Linked DNA regions of Homo sapiens: region 1 is linked to region 2. The links come from fine-mapping of genetic effects on gene expression. Tissue or cell type: whole blood. Region 2 holds a variant in brackets; the other region holds the start of a gene. All regions are shown on one strand. Distances are from middle to middle.

The links. PIP is the estimated chance that this variant, and not a neighbour inherited with it, causes the effect.
Region 1: it holds the start of ZNF605, and the variant in region 2 is fine-mapped to the expression of ZNF605 in whole blood (INTERVAL, PIP above 0.99).

Annotation. Positions count from the first base shown.
Region 1 is chr12:132,952,713-132,960,847 of GRCh38, reverse strand. ZNF605 (zinc finger protein 605) reads left to right here and starts at 4,542. Exons shown (of 5, transcript NM_183238.4): 1 at 4,542-4,605. LOC124903064 (a long non-coding RNA gene) reads right to left here and starts at 4,299. Exons shown (of 2, transcript XR_007063552.1): 1 at 4,118-4,299. RefSeq lists enhancers at 4,332-4,411, 4,165-4,993, 5,271-5,565, 4,994-5,824 and a silencer at 4,572-4,911.
Region 2 is chr12:132,931,290-132,939,424 of GRCh38, reverse strand. ZNF605 (zinc finger protein 605) reads left to right here. Exons shown (of 5, transcript NM_183238.4): 4 at 6,270-6,390. Among named protein-coding and RNA genes, the nearest start is that of ZNF605, 21 kb to the left of the region's middle. The variant C/T (reference allele first, on the strand shown) is at 4,725.

The DNA of each region.
Region 1 (8,135 bases), 21 kb before region 2:
GCCACAGGAAGATTGTGAGTTATGACAGCTCTGTGTCCTGGACCATTAAGAAAGGCAGACTTACAGCTTATCTGCTTTCTCTTATTTCGTATTTTGCTTTCCCCTGCTCCCACTACCCTGTCTCTTTTTCCCTAATTAGGACTCCACATTAATACATATTAATTTACAAAAGATAAGTGATTGTATGGGGAGGAGGAAAAAAGAAGTCAAGTCTTGGCAAGGCAGTTTGGAGAAGGAGGGATAAAGAGATGCAGAAGCAGAAGGGTGAGAAGTTTTGGCAGTTTCCTTTTTTAATATATCAATAGTTCTAAAGAGTTTAATTTTTTCTGTAGGGAAAGAAATTTTCAGTCTCTTTTAGATGCTTTTTAGTATTATTGAAAGTAACTTTCAATTTTTTAAAAATTTTAGACTCAGTTTTTAAAAATTATGCACGTAAATAAACTAATTAAGGTATTTTTAATGTCATTTCATTTTGGTCTTTGTAGTTTGGGGTCTTTATGGGTTAAATAAGACCATTTTAAAAGATATTGACAGGAGGTCGCATCATAAGTACTATATATGAATTTAGCTGGAGTTACTTAAAGGTATATATATATTTTTTTTTTTGAGATGGAGTTTCGCTCTTTTGCCCAGACTGGAATACGGTGGCACAATTTCAGCTCACTGCAACCTCCACCTTTCTGTTTCAAGCAATTCTCTTGCCTCAGACTCCCAAGTAGCTGGGATTACAGGCGCCGGCCACCATGCCCAGCTAATTTTTGTATTTTTAGTAGAGACGGGGTTTCACCATGTTGGACAGGCTGGTCTCGAACTCCTGACCTTGTGCTCCACCCACCTCAGCCTCCCAAAGCACTGAGATTACCGGCGTGAGGCACTGCATCCAGCCATTAAAGGTGTATTTCTTTTGAAGGGGAAAGACTCAGTTTTAGATGGATGAATGTCCATAATTTGGGGTTTTTGTTTTAAAGATCAAAGACTGAAAGGGAAAGAGTTGTTGGATCTGGTATGCTGCTTAATAAGGATTATTTATTGAAGAGTCACTTTTCAATAGATGTCTTGGTGAAACCCAGTAATTTTGGGCACTTAGGGCACTAGGAGATTTTTGTATTTTTTTTGTTGAGGGGAGTCTTATGGGTCCAACGTATGTCATGAACGATGAGCTTAAAGTTTCACAAAACCTAAGTCACTAAATTATCTTGTGGCTGGGAGAAAGAGTGTCTTATCTTTAAGACTTATCTCTGTCTTTATACAAAGTTTTTTTTACTGGCTTTGGTCATTTAAAATGGGACTTCAGATGTGCCAAATGAACTGAACTTAAGAGTTTAGCCAGTTTTTTTTTTTTTTAAACTTACAAGTTTTACTTAAGCCATGGAATTTTTTTTTAGAGAGAGAAACTGTTTTCTTTCCTGACCAAAATTGGAATGAAAGAAAAGGCCATGGCCATGCTCAGTGGCTCATGCCTGTAATCCCAGCACTTTGGGAGGCCAAGACAGGCGGATCACCTGAGGTCATGAGTTCGACACCAGCCTGGCCAACATGGTGAAGCCTCGTCTCTACAAAAATACAAAAAATTAGCCAGGCATGATGGTGGGTGCCTGTAATCCCAGCTACTCGGGGGGCAGAGGCGGGAGAATTGCTTCAACCCAGGAGGCAGAGGTAGCAGTGAACTGAGATCGCGCCACTGCACTCCAGCCTGGGTGACAGAGCAAGACTCCATCTCAAAAAAAAAAAAAAAAAAAAGGCGTATAAATTCTAGTAAGTCATTTAATAAATGACACGCTTAACCTCGGAGAAAAGTGAAAATCATAAATCTGTGAACAGCAAAATTTTCTGAGAACAAAAACAAAACTACCTTAAAGCAGAATTTTAATTTTAGCTCTGTTGAGCATGGAATTGGTTTGCTTAAATAAAGTTGAATCTCAGTTAGAAGCAGGGCAATGTGGGCTGGGTACGGTGGCTCAGGTCTGTAATCCCAGCACTTTGGGAGTCCGAGACGCATGGATCACCAGAGGTCAGGAGTTTGAGACCAGCCTTGCCAACATGGTGAAACCCATCTCTACTAAAAATACAAAAAGTAGCTGGGAGTGGCTGGGCGCAGTGGCTCACGCCTGTAATCCCAGCACTTCGGGAGGCCGAGGCAGGCGGATCACGAGGTTAAGAGATCAAGATCAGCCTGACCAACATGGTGAAACCACGTCTCTACTAAAAATACAAAAATTAGCCGGGCGTGGTGGCGCACGCCTGCAATCCCAGCTACTCGGGAGGCTGAGGCAGGAGAATCACTTGAACTCAGGAGGCGGAGGCTGCAGTGAGCCGATATTGTGCCACTGCACTCCAGCCTGGGCGACAAGAGCAAAACTCCATCTCTCACAGGCTCCAAATTTACTAATATAGAATTGAGCAAAATATTATTTCATATATACTTTAATTTGGTCTTTATGGCCATTTCAATTTTTTAAATTGCCAATTGTGAGTGTGTTTCCTGTTTCTCCCCATTTTTATTTTAAAAAACTAATATGCTTTTACAGTTTTTCTTTTTCTTTTTTTTTTTTTTTAGACAGAATCTCACTCTGTCTCCCAGGGTGGAGTGCAGTGGTGAGATCTCAGCTCACTGCAACCTCTGCCTCCTGGGTTCAAGCAATTCTCATGCCTCCACCTCCTGAGTAGGTGGGATTACAGGTATGAGCCATTACAGGCATGAGCCACCACACCTGGCTAATTTTTATATTTTTAGTACAGATGGGGTTTCACCATGTTGGTCAGGCTGGTCTCGAACTCCTGACCTCAGGTGATCCGCCCGCCTTAGCCTCCCAAAGTGCTGGGATTACAGGTGTGAGCCACCGCGCCTGGCCTGGCCAAAAAATATTTTTAAGAGAAGGTGTCTCCCTCTGTGGCCCAGGCTGGAGTGCAGTGTTGCCATCATAGCTCACTGCAGCCTCAACCTCCCAGGCTCAGGCAATCCTCCTGCCTCAGCCTCCAGTAGTTGGGACTACAGGGACAAGCCACTGCTTTATATATCCATAAATATATTTTATTTCCCTGTAATGTCCTCATCTCATTTATTTTTCCTTTTTTTTTTCTTGAGATGAGGTCTCACTCTGTTGCCAGGCTAGAGTGCAGCGGCATGATGGCTCACCGCAACCCCCGCCTCCCGAGTTCAAGTGATTCTCCTGCCTCAGCCTCCCGAGTAGATGGGATTACAGGCGCCCACCACCACGCCCAGCTAATGTTCTGTATTTTTAGTAGAGACGGGGTTTCACCGTGTTGGCCAGGATGGTCTCAATCTCCTGACCTGGTGATCCGCCCACCTCAGCCTCCCAAAGTGCTGGGATTACAGCCGTGAGCCACCGCGCCCAACCCTATCATCTATTTTCATTCCTTTTGTCAATACTGCTGGATTGGATGTACTAAATGTAAGGTCCTCTGAGCTGGCCGCACCATGGTCAAGCCATCGTGACATTCCCCCACCCTTGTGATAATGTACTTTGTAATATTCCCGGTCCTTGTGAATGTACTTTGTAACATTCCTCTCCGCCCTTGTGACAATACACCCTCCCCGCCCTTGTGAATGTACTTTGTAACATCCTCCCCTGCCCGCAAAAAATTGCTGCTGAGGCCGGGCGCGGTGGCTCACGCCCGTAATCCCAGCACTTTGGGAGGCCGAGGAGGGCGGATCACGAGGTCAGGAGATCAAGACCATCCTGGCTAACACAGTGAAACCCCGTCTCTACTAAAAATACAAAAAAATTAGCCGGGCGTGGTGGCGGGTGCCTGTAGTCCCAGCTACTCAGGAGGATGAGGCAGGAGAATGGCGTGAACCCGGGAGGCGGAGCTTGCAGTGAGCCGAGATCGCGCCACTGCACTCCAGCCTCGGCGACAGAGTGAGACTCTGTCTCAAAAAAAAAAAAAAAAAAAAAAATTGCTGCTGACTCCACCGCCTATCCTATCCCAAAGCTATAAGAACCAATGACAAGCCCACCACCCTCCGCTGACTCCTTTCTCAGACTCAGCCCACTTGCACCCAAGTGAATAAACAGGCGTGTTGCTCACACTTAGCCTGCTCAGGTGGTCTCCTATACGGACGCACGTAACACTAACATTTACCGATATTACTTACAGCTACGATGAAAAATGGAAAAGCAGCCGGACGCAGTGACTCATGCCTGTAATTCCAGCATTTTGGGAGGCTGGGGCAGGAGGATCATTTGAACCCAGGAGTCGGAGACCAGCCTGAGGCTGCAATGAGCGTTCATGGCACCACTGCACTCCCCACTGGGTGACAGAGCGAGACCCTGCCTCCAAAAAAAAAAAAAAAAAAAACAAGGAAAAGATGCAGACGCTTCCTCCTGGAGGCGCCTTTAGGTTCTCTCACAGACATGTTGGGCCAGCAGTGCTGGCTCCATCCTAGATTTCTTCCAGTCCTCCCCAGTTAGCCGCCAAGGGGCTTTTCCAACCGGAAACCTCCAATCCGCGACCCCGGCGGGTGCACCGCCGAGCCCCCCGGGAAGTGTAGTTCCAGCGCGAGCGGGACGCTGGGAAATGTAGTTCTGCGCGTTCACGTCCCCGATCGGGCCGTGTCCGCCGCGGCCCTGCGAGGTCCGAGGGGTAAGGGAGCGTGCAGCGGGGGCGGGACCACGAGGCGGCGGGGCTGGGGGCGGCCTCTGTGTCTGCGCCGGGGATCGCGGTGACCCCGCTGCGGACCGGCTCGCGGTGACCCCAGCGCGAACGAGCTGGCTGCCGGCTGGGGCGAGAAAGGCCTGCGGACCGGCCTGGGCGCATGCGCGGAAGGCGGGCCTCAGGCGGGGGCTCTGGGGGCGCGCGGGGGTGGGAGGCAGAGGGTGGGGTGGGGGCTGTAGGGCGGGCGGCGGCGGGGCGCTGAATGTGGGTGTCGGGGGAGATTTGGGGTCAGCTGGGCGATTCACTGGGGGCCTATGGAGGTCGCTGTAGACTTGGGGTGCAGCACGGGCGGGGCAAGGGGACGCGAGGTTGCCCTTGGCCCCAGGGGAGAGGGGCCCCTGGGAGGCCGTGTGGAGGATTTGTCTGCAGCGATTAGGACTCTGCTGATGAATGATTTGGATGCCTTTGGGTGAGCATTGGAGGCCAGCGGGGTGAATGATGAGGCTTCTGCGGGGGCCTGCGTTGGAGGGCTTAGGGGCTTGCTTGTGTGGGTTCCATTCACTGGAAAGCCTGCCGGCTGTGACAGTGTTGGATTTCACCAGAGCCCTGTGCTCCTGGAAAACAGCGAAGGTTGAGGAATTTCCCACCCTTTTGGGTTCCAGCAAATGGCTCACTGCAAAGATCTCCCGTTCCCTATATGACTTTGGTCAGCCTCCAGGATGCCCCTTGTTCACACAGACCTGCCACGTTGCCGTCGCTTGCCTCATCGGTGACTGGCTGAACTCCACCGAGCGGTCGGAGCAAAATGCTCCTTAAGCAAACTTTAGCTAAGCTTCTTTCCTTTCCCCATTTTCTTGAGCTTTGGCCCATCCCCAGCCTGAGCCAACACGCAGCCTCGCCTGAGAACAGGCTGGCTCAGGGTCAAGCTTTCCCCGCTCTGCTGTCTGGTCGCCCGCACTTCCACCTCGCTTGGCCAGGCCTGGTCTTTGCTAACCTTGTTCACACCTCTCTGTGAAAGAAAAACCCTTTTTGCCTTGCAGAGATGCACGTGAGTCTCGTGGCTTCACGGTTCTTCCCAGAAGCCCGTTCTCCTTCCCCTTCCCAACCCTCTTCCGCGTCTTTTTTTCCCCACTTCCAATAACCCTTTGGAACCGTCTTTCTTTGCTCTGTCCAGTTGTATGTTTTATTTGACAGCTGAATAACAGTGGTTGCTCTTTCAACCCCTGTCTCCAATAGCGGAGGCGAGTATGGGGTGGCCTATGCTGGCGAGTGGCTGGGGTTTGTTTCTGTGCTTGTGTTTGGGGATCTTATGATGGAAGCATTAGGAATGGCGCTGTGTATTTGTGACAAGGGAGTCTGGATGTAAGTTAATGGTGGACCTGTTGCAAGTTGTGAGTGCGTGGACAACGGGGGTCATACTTGGCGTCATTGGAGGGGCCTGCGGGATCGGCATTTGTGCAGAGCCCCACAATCCCTTTCCAGGTGGTGTTTGGGAGGGCCTGTGGGAATGTCAGTGAATGCTCCAGCATGGAGTGGATTAGAGAATGGGGTGTCATGGGGGCGAATGCTTGGGGGCCCCGGGGATAAGGGATTAGGGATCCCTGGGCATTGAGTGACTGGGGTCTAATTTAGGGGGTCTGTGGCGCAAGCCTCAGAATGTCAGTTACAGGGGAGGGGCTCTGTGAGCGCCTGACTTGGGCACCTGATGAAGTGAGTGAATGGAGACCAGTGTGTTCGTCCCAGGACAGAAGCCCCTTCTCCTCCCCTCCCCACCCTTCTCCTCCCCTCCCTACCCTTCTCCTCCCCCATCCTTCTCATCCCCTCCCCACCTCACCTGCAGGAGTGACTGAAGCCCCTTCTCCCCCGCTCCCCACCCTTCTCCTCCCCTCCCCAGCTCATCTGCAGGAGTATCTGAGTTCTGTGGGGATCCTTTGGGACTCAGAGTTTGGGGTTTCAGTCTGTGGTGATTCTTAAGTGGGGCTTTGGGGGTGCTGGTGATTATGGTGTCTGGCATCTGTATTTAAAAGCCCTGTGGGAGTCACTGAGGTCCAGTCATCAGTTGGGCCTGTAGGGATAACTCTGCCTGGCCTGTGAGGTCTATGGTGTGACGTAGGAATGGTAAGTGTCTGGGGGCCTGTGGAGGATTAGGAATAAAGGGTCCAGTGTACATCGTTGAATGGGGGACAGTTTTATTGGCTCGTGCCCTGGCATTGGCTTTGTTATTTGAGGGTGTTGGAACCAGGTGAGAAGGAGCTTGTTTGTATTAGTGACCGGGTACCAGAGATGACTGAATGACTGATGGGGTGGGCAGTGAGGTCTGTGAGGAGGAATGATCGGAGGGCTTGGGATCAATGCCAAGTATGCGTGCAAGTGTCTGTGATGGGTGTGCGGGTGGGTGAGGGTGAGAAATTGGGGACCCTGTGGGTGTCAGTGAGAGGGAAGCCTGGGGAGCCTAAGAGTTTGTTTGCCATTTGCGGTGAATGTGGAGTTAGAAGTTAGTGGCCTTAGCTGGGCACCGTGGCTCACACCTGTAATCCCAGCACTTTGGGAGGCTGAGGCAGGCAGATCAGGAGGTCAAGAGATCCACACCATCCTGGCCAACATGGTGAAACCCCGTCTCTACTAAAAATACAAAAATTAGCTGGGCATGGTGGTGGGCGCCTGTAATCCCACCTACTCAGGAGGCTGAGGCAGGAGAATTGCTTGAACCCAGGAGGCAGAGGTTGCAGTGAACCGAGATTTTGCCACTGCACTCCAGCCTGATGACAGAGTGAGACTCCATCTTAAAAAAGATAATAATAAGTTAGTGGCCTTTGGGTATCTGTGATTAGTGGTCTATACTGTGCCAGTCTGTGGAGTCTGTGGTCAGGTGTTTCTGGAGGCTGTTGTGGGGCCACTAGAGTTACCGCCTGGGGTCTTTGTTGGATGGTCACTGGGGAACCCATAGTGTGTGTCTCTGAAGGCCCTGGAGGGGCGGCCTCTTGGGGAGAGAGACTGGGTGGCCTGTGAAGTCAGCCATTGTGGTCCTGTGGGAGTGATGGGGGCACATGGGGTGAGTGAGAGTGGGGTTGATGGGGTTCGGTGGTTGTGTGGTCTGGAGGTCTGTGAAGCAGGCCTATTGGATTCAGTGATCTGGGGATGTCTTGGGATGTGGACCTGGAGAATTCTCAGGTGGTCACTGTGAGTGACTGGGGGACTTGGGATGCTGGAGGTTGGCAGGGGCTTGGAGCTGCGGAGTTCAGTGGTTTGTGTCTGGGGTGTGTGTGTGATGGAGGCCCTCTCTGGGACTTGGTAATCCGGGGAACTTGGCAGGGCCGTGTTGGTGGGTCTGGAAGCAGATCCGAATGTGAATGGGTCGTGGGTTGGCTCAGGCAAGCCTCTCGTGAGTGACAGGTCTTTTTGCCCTTTGGCCCTCTCCTTGTAGCTTGTGACCGCTGATCAGTGATCACTCTTTTTACGTGATTATTTCCTTTTTTAAAAGTTCTCAGTGACCCCGTTGGCCTTAAGGTCTTCTCCTT
Region 2 (8,135 bases):
TACAAACCTTGAGCTAGATACAGAGTGCCGATTGGTGTATTTACAATCCTTGAGCTAGACATAAAGGTTCTCCATGTCCTCACCAGCAGCTAGATACAGAGTGTTGATTGGTGCACTCACAAACCTTGAGCTAAACACAGGGTGCTGATTGGTGTATTTACAATCCCTGAGCTAGATATAAAGACTCTCCACGTCCCCACCAGACTCAGGAGCCCAGCTGGCTTCACCTAGTGGATCCCGCACCGGGGCTGCAGGTGGAGCTGCCTGCCAGTCCTGCGCTGTGCGCTCGCATTCCTCAGCCCTTGGGTGGTCGATGGGACTGGGCGCCGTGGAGCAGGGGGTGGTGCTCGTCAGGGAGGCTGGGGCCGCATGGGAGCCCATGGAGTGGGTGGGAGGCTCAGGCATGGTGGGCTGCAGGTGCCCAGCCCTGCCCCGCGGGGAGGCAGCTAAGGCTCGGTGAGAAATCGAGCGCAGCGCCGGTGGGCCAGCACTGCTGGGGGACCCAGTACACCCTCCGCAGCCACTGGCCCGGGTGCTAAGTCCCCCATTGCCCGGGGCCAGCAGGGCTGGCTGGCTGCTCCGAGTGCGGCGCCCACCAAGCCCACGCCCACCCGGAACTCCAGCTGGCCCGCAAGCGCCGCACACAGCCCCGGTTCCCGCTCGTGCCTCTCCCTCCACACCTCCCTGCAAGCTGAGGGAGTGGGCTCCAGCCTTGGCCAGCCCAGAAAGGGGCTCCCACAGTGCAGTGGGGGACTGAAGGGCTCCTCAAATGCCACCAAAGTGGGAGCCCAGGCAGGGGAGGTGCCGAGAACAAGCGAGGGCTCTGAGGACTGCCAGCACGCTGTCACCTCTCACCAGCACTTCGGGAGGCTGAGGCGGGCAAATCACCTGAGGTCGGGAGTTCGAGACCAGCCTGACCAACATGTAGAAACCCCGTCACTACTAAAAATACAAAAATTAGCAGGGTGTGGTGGCGTGTGCCTGTAATCCCAGCTACTCGGGAGGCTGAGGCAGGAGAATCGCTAGAACCCAGGAGGCAGAGGTTGCAGTGAGTCGAGATCGTGCCACTTCACCCCAGCCTGGGCAACAGAGTGAGATTCTGTCTCAAAAAAATAAAAAATAAAAATAAAAAAATAAATGGGATCGGCCTGGCACAGTGGCTCTTGCCTGTAATCCCAGCACTTTGGGAGGCCGAGGCAGGTGGATCACAAGGTCAGGAGATTGAGATCATCCAGGCTAACAGGGTGAAACCCCGTCTCTACTAAAAATACAAAAAGTTAGCCGGGCGTAGTGGCAGGCGCCTGTAGTCCCAGCTACTTGGGAGGCTGAGGCAGGAGAATGGCGTGAACCCAGGAGGCGGGGCTTGCCATGAGCCGAGATCGCGCCACTGCACTCCAGCCTGGGCGACAGAGCGAGACTCCCTCTCAAATAAATAATAAATAAATAAATAAATGGGATCACATATGTGACCTTTTGACAGTGGCTTTTCTCACTTAGCATACCTTTGAGATTCATTCATATCTTATCGGTAGTTTCTTCCTTTTTCTTGGCGTGTGATTCCCTTGAATATGATCCCATGTATGGATGGGCCACAGTCTCTATCCATTCACTTATTGAAGGACATCTTAATTGTTCCACTTTTTAGCAGTTTTGAATAAAGCATTCATCTGCATATAGGTTTGAATATAAATTTTCAGGTGAATGTAAGTTTTCAGTTCACTACTTGAGTAAACACCTAGGAGTGGAATTGCTGCGTTGTGTGGTAAGTCTGTGTTCAACTTTATAAGAAACTGCCAAAATGTTTTCAAAAGCTGCTGTACATTTTACATTCCCACCACAATGAATGACAGTTGCTCTTGCTCTGAGTCCTCACAGATATTTGTCAGGGGTGTGTGTGTGTGTGTGTGTCTGTGTGTGTGTGTGTTTAGTTTTAGCCTTCTAATAAGTACATAGTAGTTTTTCATTATAGTTTTAATTTGCATTCACCTTTTGACAGATATATTGAACATCTTTTCATATATTTACTTTCCATCCATACATTTTCTTTTTTTTTTTTTTTTTTTTTGAGACAGAGTTTCATTCTTGTCGCCCAGGCTGGAGTGCAATGGCACCATCTCGGCTCACTGCAACCTCTGCCTCCTGGGTTCAAGCAATTATCCTCCCTTAGCCTTCCCAGTAGGTAGGATTACAGGTGCGTGTCACCATGCCTGGCTAATTTTTGTATTTTTAGTAGAAATGGGGTTTCACCATGTTGGCCAGGCTGGTCTTGAACTCCTGACCTCAGGTGATCCGCCTGCCTCGGCCTCCCAAAATGCTGGGATTACAGGCGTGAGCCACCGCGCCCAGCCACCTTCCATATATTTTCTTTGGTGAAATGTCAAGATATCTTGTTAATTTTTAAAATGAGGTTATTTTCTTAGTAAGAGTTCTTTATATCCTGGATATGAGTGCTTTAGCAAGTATGTAATTTGCAAATAATTTTCTCTTAGTCTGTGCCGTGCCTTCTCTTTCTCTTAACATTGTCTTTCACAGAGCAAAAGTTCTTAATTTTGAAAAAGTCCAATTTATCAAATTTTTTTCTTAAATTGATCAGGCTTTTGGTGTTGTATCTAACTCATTGCCAAACCCAAAGTCACACAGGTTTTCTTTGGTTTTCTTCTAAAAGTTTTATAGTTTTTTATGTTTAGGTCTGTGATCCATTTTGAGTTAGTTTTGATATAAGGTGTGAGGTATGTGTTGAGATCCCTTTTGCTTATGAGTATAAAATTGTTGAGACATTATTTGTCACAAAGACTGTAGAATTGCTTTTTGTACTTTTGTGAAACAATTGAGTATATTTGTAGGGGCTTATTTTTGAGTTCTGTGTTCTGTTCCATTAACTTGTGTTTTTATCCTTTCACAAATGCCATCCTGCCTTAATTACTGTGGTTGCATAGGAAGTCTTGAAATCAAGTAATGTGAGTCCTTTTATGTTTAAACTATTTTGAATATAAATGTGCCTCTTTCGTAGGCAGCATGTAGCTGGGGTTGCTTTATATTTTCCATTTCTGAGCTTTTGCTTTATTATTTCTTCTGGTCTATCTTCCAATTCACTTATTCTCTCTTTATCTTTTCCTAATCTACTCTTAAGCCCTTCCATTGACTTCTTAACTTTACTTATTATGCATTTTATCTCTAGAAGTTATATTTCATTTTTTTCAAATCTGCTTATTCATTTTTATAGTCTTCTGATTATTTTTCGTACTTTCATTAACCTCTCATTTCTTTGAATATATTAAATATATTTATTTTATATTCTGTGCTGACAGTTCAAATATCCTAAGTCTTTTATACCACTCCTGTTTGTTTTTTTTTGGTTTTTTTTGAGATGGAGTCTTGCTCTGTCGCCCAGGCTGGAGTGCAGTAGCGCCATCTCGGCTCACTGCAAGCTCCACCTCCTGGGTTCACGCCATTCTCCTGCCTCAGCCTCCCGAGTAGCTGGGACTACAGGCACCCACCACCACGCCCGGCTAATTTTTTTTTTTTTTTTTTTAAGACAGAGTCTCACTCTGTCACCCAGGCTGGAGTCCAGTGGTACGATCTCTGCTCATTGCAACCTCCGCCTCCCGGGTTCACGCCATTCTCCTGCCTCAGCCTCCCGAGTAGCTGGGACTACAGGCGCCCACCACCATGCCCGGCTAATTTTTTTGTATTTTTAGTAGAGATGGGGTTTCACCATGTTAGCCAGGATGGTCTCGATCTCCTTACCTCGTGATCCACCTGCCTCGGCCTCCCAAAGTGCTGGGGTTACAGGCGTGAGCCACCGCACCTGGATGATTTTTTTTTTATGTGTGCATTCCGGTTTCTCTTTTACTCTGTACTCATTTTTCTTGAATCTTTATTTGTGAGAATTATTTTGATCTCTTTCTCTAAATAGAATTTGCATTTGATTCTGCCGGATGCCTGAATGCATGGCCCCCTCAAAAACACTTTAGAACTCTCTGTGCTTAAGGTTTTTGCAAAACACATCTATACTGGAGTTGAGCCCACACACCCATATAAATCCAGCTTGTTATAATTCTCAGGGACAATTTTTGACCTCTTTGTGTAACACTAACATTTGAGGCAAGAAATTGATTTTCTTTGATTTTTTTTTCATTGACCCACACACGGAGTACTCCTTGTGTTCCAGCTTTATGAGGGAAAATAACCTATTAGTCCCCTATGCTTGGGCTTATTCTAAGCTTTCCTCCTTTTTCCTGTGTCCCTTGTAGCTGCTGGGACTGGAATGCTCAAATTTACTTGAGTCCAGCTGAAGGCTGGCCTCTGCTTACCTCTCTAGGTTTCCACGTTCCCTTTTAAAGAGGCCAGGACCATTCCCACCGCTCCCACTCCCTCTCTTATATTCCTGAACTTTCATCCCTCAGAAAACACACTTTATTTCCATGTCTTTGCTCATGCTGCTGCCTTGAGAGTGTCCTTTTCCTCATCCCCCTCTGTAACCAGGACTTTCTAAAGACCCTTTCTAAGCCTTACTGTCTTTACAGCACCTAACCCAGTGTTGTTAAATCCAGTGTTTTTATCCCCGTTTTGTCTCTATATTCTGTAAATGCTAGCTTCATAGCCCTGTAACCTTATTCACTCTGGCCTGAAAGGTACTTGAGAATGTGATTTTTTTCTACTCATTTTTAAATTTCTAGTACCTGTTATGGTTCCTGGAATCTTTTTTTTTTTTTTTTTTTAGA[C/T]GGAATCTTGCTCTGTCACCAGGCTGGAGTGCAGCGGCACAATCTCAGCTCACTGCAACCTCTACCTTCTGGGTTCAAGCTATTCTCCTGTCTCAGCCTCCCGAGTAGCTGGGATTACAGGCACACACCACCACACTTGGCTAATTTTTGTATTTTTGGTAGAGATGGGGTTTTACAGTGCTGGCCAGGCTGGTCTCCAACTCCTGACCTCAGGTGATCCACCTGCCTTGGCCTCCCAAAGTGCTGAGATTTCAGGTGTGAGCCACCACACCCAGATGGTTCCTGGAATCTTAATTGCTCAATATGTGTGTTTTGGAAGATACCTAAAATAGCTGGCCAGTTCTTACTTGGGAGCAGAATCACTCCCAGAGGAAAGAGAGTGTTTTTGTTTTTGTTGTTGTTTATTTATTTATTTATTTATTTGAGACAGAGTCTTGCTCTGTTGCCCAGGCTGCATGCAGGTGCACGATCTTGGCTCACTGCAACCTCCACCTCCCAGGTTCAAGTGATTCTCCTGCCTCAGCCTCCCTGGTAGCTGGGATTGCAGGTGCCCACCACCACCCCCAGCTAATTTGTGTGTGTGTGCATGTGTGTGTGTGTGTGTTTAATAGAGTTGGGGTTTCACCATGTTGGCCAGGCTGGTCTTGAATTCCTGACCTCAGGTGATCCGCCCACCTCAGCCTCCCAAAGTGCTGGGATTACAGGCATAAGCCACCGTGCCCAGCCAGTGACTGAGAGATATTACTGTCATTAGCAGACAGAGGCCAGGCATGCTGAAGGGCTCAACTGCATGGAACAGTATTCCTTACCTAAGAATGGTTCTCAAATACTAGTGGCACCTTCTTTGAGAACCACTGTATTGTTTAAAGACAACCTATTCTGGTTTCTTGTTCAGTGGATAGGTACATGGATGAATGAATTCACAATGATAAATATTTTTAAAACATTCCTTCCTCAAGGCATAATGCAAGATTATTATATTTATTATATTAGATTATATTGGTTATTCATTATTGTGTCACAAATTACCCCAAACCTCAAGGGCTGAAAACAACAAACATTGATCTGTTTCTGGGTTTTGGAATCTGCCAGGTACTTGCCCAGTTGGTTCTGGTTGAGGGTCTCACATGATGCAGTGATGAAGGTGTTGAGAAGGGCTGCAGCGAGGAAGGAGCTGGCTCCTCCAGGCTCACTCAGTGGCTGTTGGGAAGCCTCAGTTCCACGGCACATGAGCTTCCACATGGCGGCCTTACAACACAGCAGCCAGACTCCTCCAGAGAGAGAGAGTGCCCAGGATAGAAGTTGCATTTCTTTCTAACCTAGTCTTGGAAGTGGCATCTCATCATGTTTCCCTGTTCTGTTCAGGACAATGAGTCAGTGAGTCCAGCCCACGGTCAAGAGGGGAGGATTATGCAAAAGCATGAATACCGGAGTCAGAGGTCACTGGGGCCATCTTAGAGGCCACCTACCACAAATACAGAAGAAAGTATTTTACAAGACCAAATGAGAACCACTTCAGGTTTAACAGGGATTATGCTTTTCCAGATATCATTTGAGGATGTGGCTGTGGATTTCACGCTGGAGGAATGGCAGCTACTTAATCCTACTCAGAAGAACTTGTACAGAGATGTGATGTTGGAGAACTATAGCAATCTGGTTTTCTTGGGTAAGAACATTCTTATGTAACTTAGTGTATGGCCAGTAACTGGCCTGTGAGGTGTTTGTTTATTTTGGATGTAAGTTTTACATGTCAAAGATTATTTGACTTTTATACTGAATTGAAAGATTTTCATTCACTTGCTTTATTTTGCAGCCTTTATAATAAAACATTCTACATATTTAAGACTCTTAGCCCAGGCAGTTAGGTCCAAGTCCTCTGTGTTTCCAATCGACAGGTTTTCAAATTCTCAAACCTGATGCAATGTTCAAACTGGAACAACAAGATCCATGGATAATAGGTCAAGAAATCCTAAATCAGAACTTTTCAGGTGAGGAATAATCAGGTTTATGAGATACAGTGAACATTTTATCTCAGGTTTTTGATGACAGGTGGGCACTTTTAAAGTGTTGTTTATAAAACTGTGTTTAAAGTTCCTGAATCTTTAGAGTTGACTCAAGATTGGTGACATGAGTTTTAATGGATGTGCTCCATAACCTGGTCTCCACATCGGGATGTGTCTTTTCTCCATGGAGTTTATGATGAAATGTATCCCTCTTATTCAGTGGCATAGATTGGTGGCCATTTACAACCCCACTTTCTTAGTTAAGGCTCTCTTTATGAATTCATAATTTTTTTCTTCTTTTAGATAACACTGATTGCCTTTGAGTTTATTTAAACTTCAAACTTTTAATTTATTATTTTTCTTCTCTTCCTCTAATTTGATATATTTCTATTTTAAAACCACAGAGAGTAGAAGATGAACCCACTGATACAGAGTGAAAATCTAGGCTGGGCGCAGTAGCTCATACTGTAATCCTCATGCTGTGGAGGTTGGGGAGAGGGCAGGGCACGACAGTCACTTAAGGCCAGGAGTTTGAGACCAACCTGGGCAACAAAGCAAGACCCCATATCTACTACTACTAATAATACCTAACAATAATAATAATAATTCAGCCAAATATGGTGGTGTGCACCTCTAGTGCCAGCTACCTGGGAGGCTGAGGTGGGAGGATTGCTTGACCCAAGGAGCTGGAAGCTGCAGTGTGCCATGGATGTGCTAGGCAACAGAGTGAGACCCTGTCTCTAAAAACAAAAACACACACACACAAAACCCTAATACCTTAAACATAGTAAGGAGATTTTGCTTCTTACCTTCCTCTGTACAAACTAAGGATTTTCAAGTCAGTTCCCAGTGCATCTTTCTGGTACATTTGATGTTTAACTTCTCTAAAGCTTCTCTCTCATACCATCACATAGTCAGGTGGGTTTAAGTCTCCATTACCTGCTGTGTGATATTTAATCTCCGTTTTTGTTGAAGAATCTCATGGTATGGGAACATCTTATCTCTCCACTTATTTTTCTATGCTCAAGAGTCATTATTAACTCCATTTGAGCTAGATTTGTGCTCAAGAGTCATTATTAACTCCATCTGAGCTAGATTCTTCCTCACACGCTCTTCTGAAATTTTTCTCTGCATCTGTACCTCTGATTATGGTACATTTTCCCCAGGTAGACTTCACTTTGAGCTCTTTTCTTCAACTTCAGTGAATGTTCCTTGACTCACAGCTTTCTCTGAAATCTCTATCCACGTAGCATCTATAGTATAGTAACTCAGGCCTGATGGACATTATCTGAAATTCCTAAAACAACTAGTCCTAAGATTTTTTTCCCCATAAAGAGAGATTGCCAGTAACGTAGTCTGTGTTCTCTGTGGAATTTGTGGTATGCACTTACTTGATTTTTAAAAATTG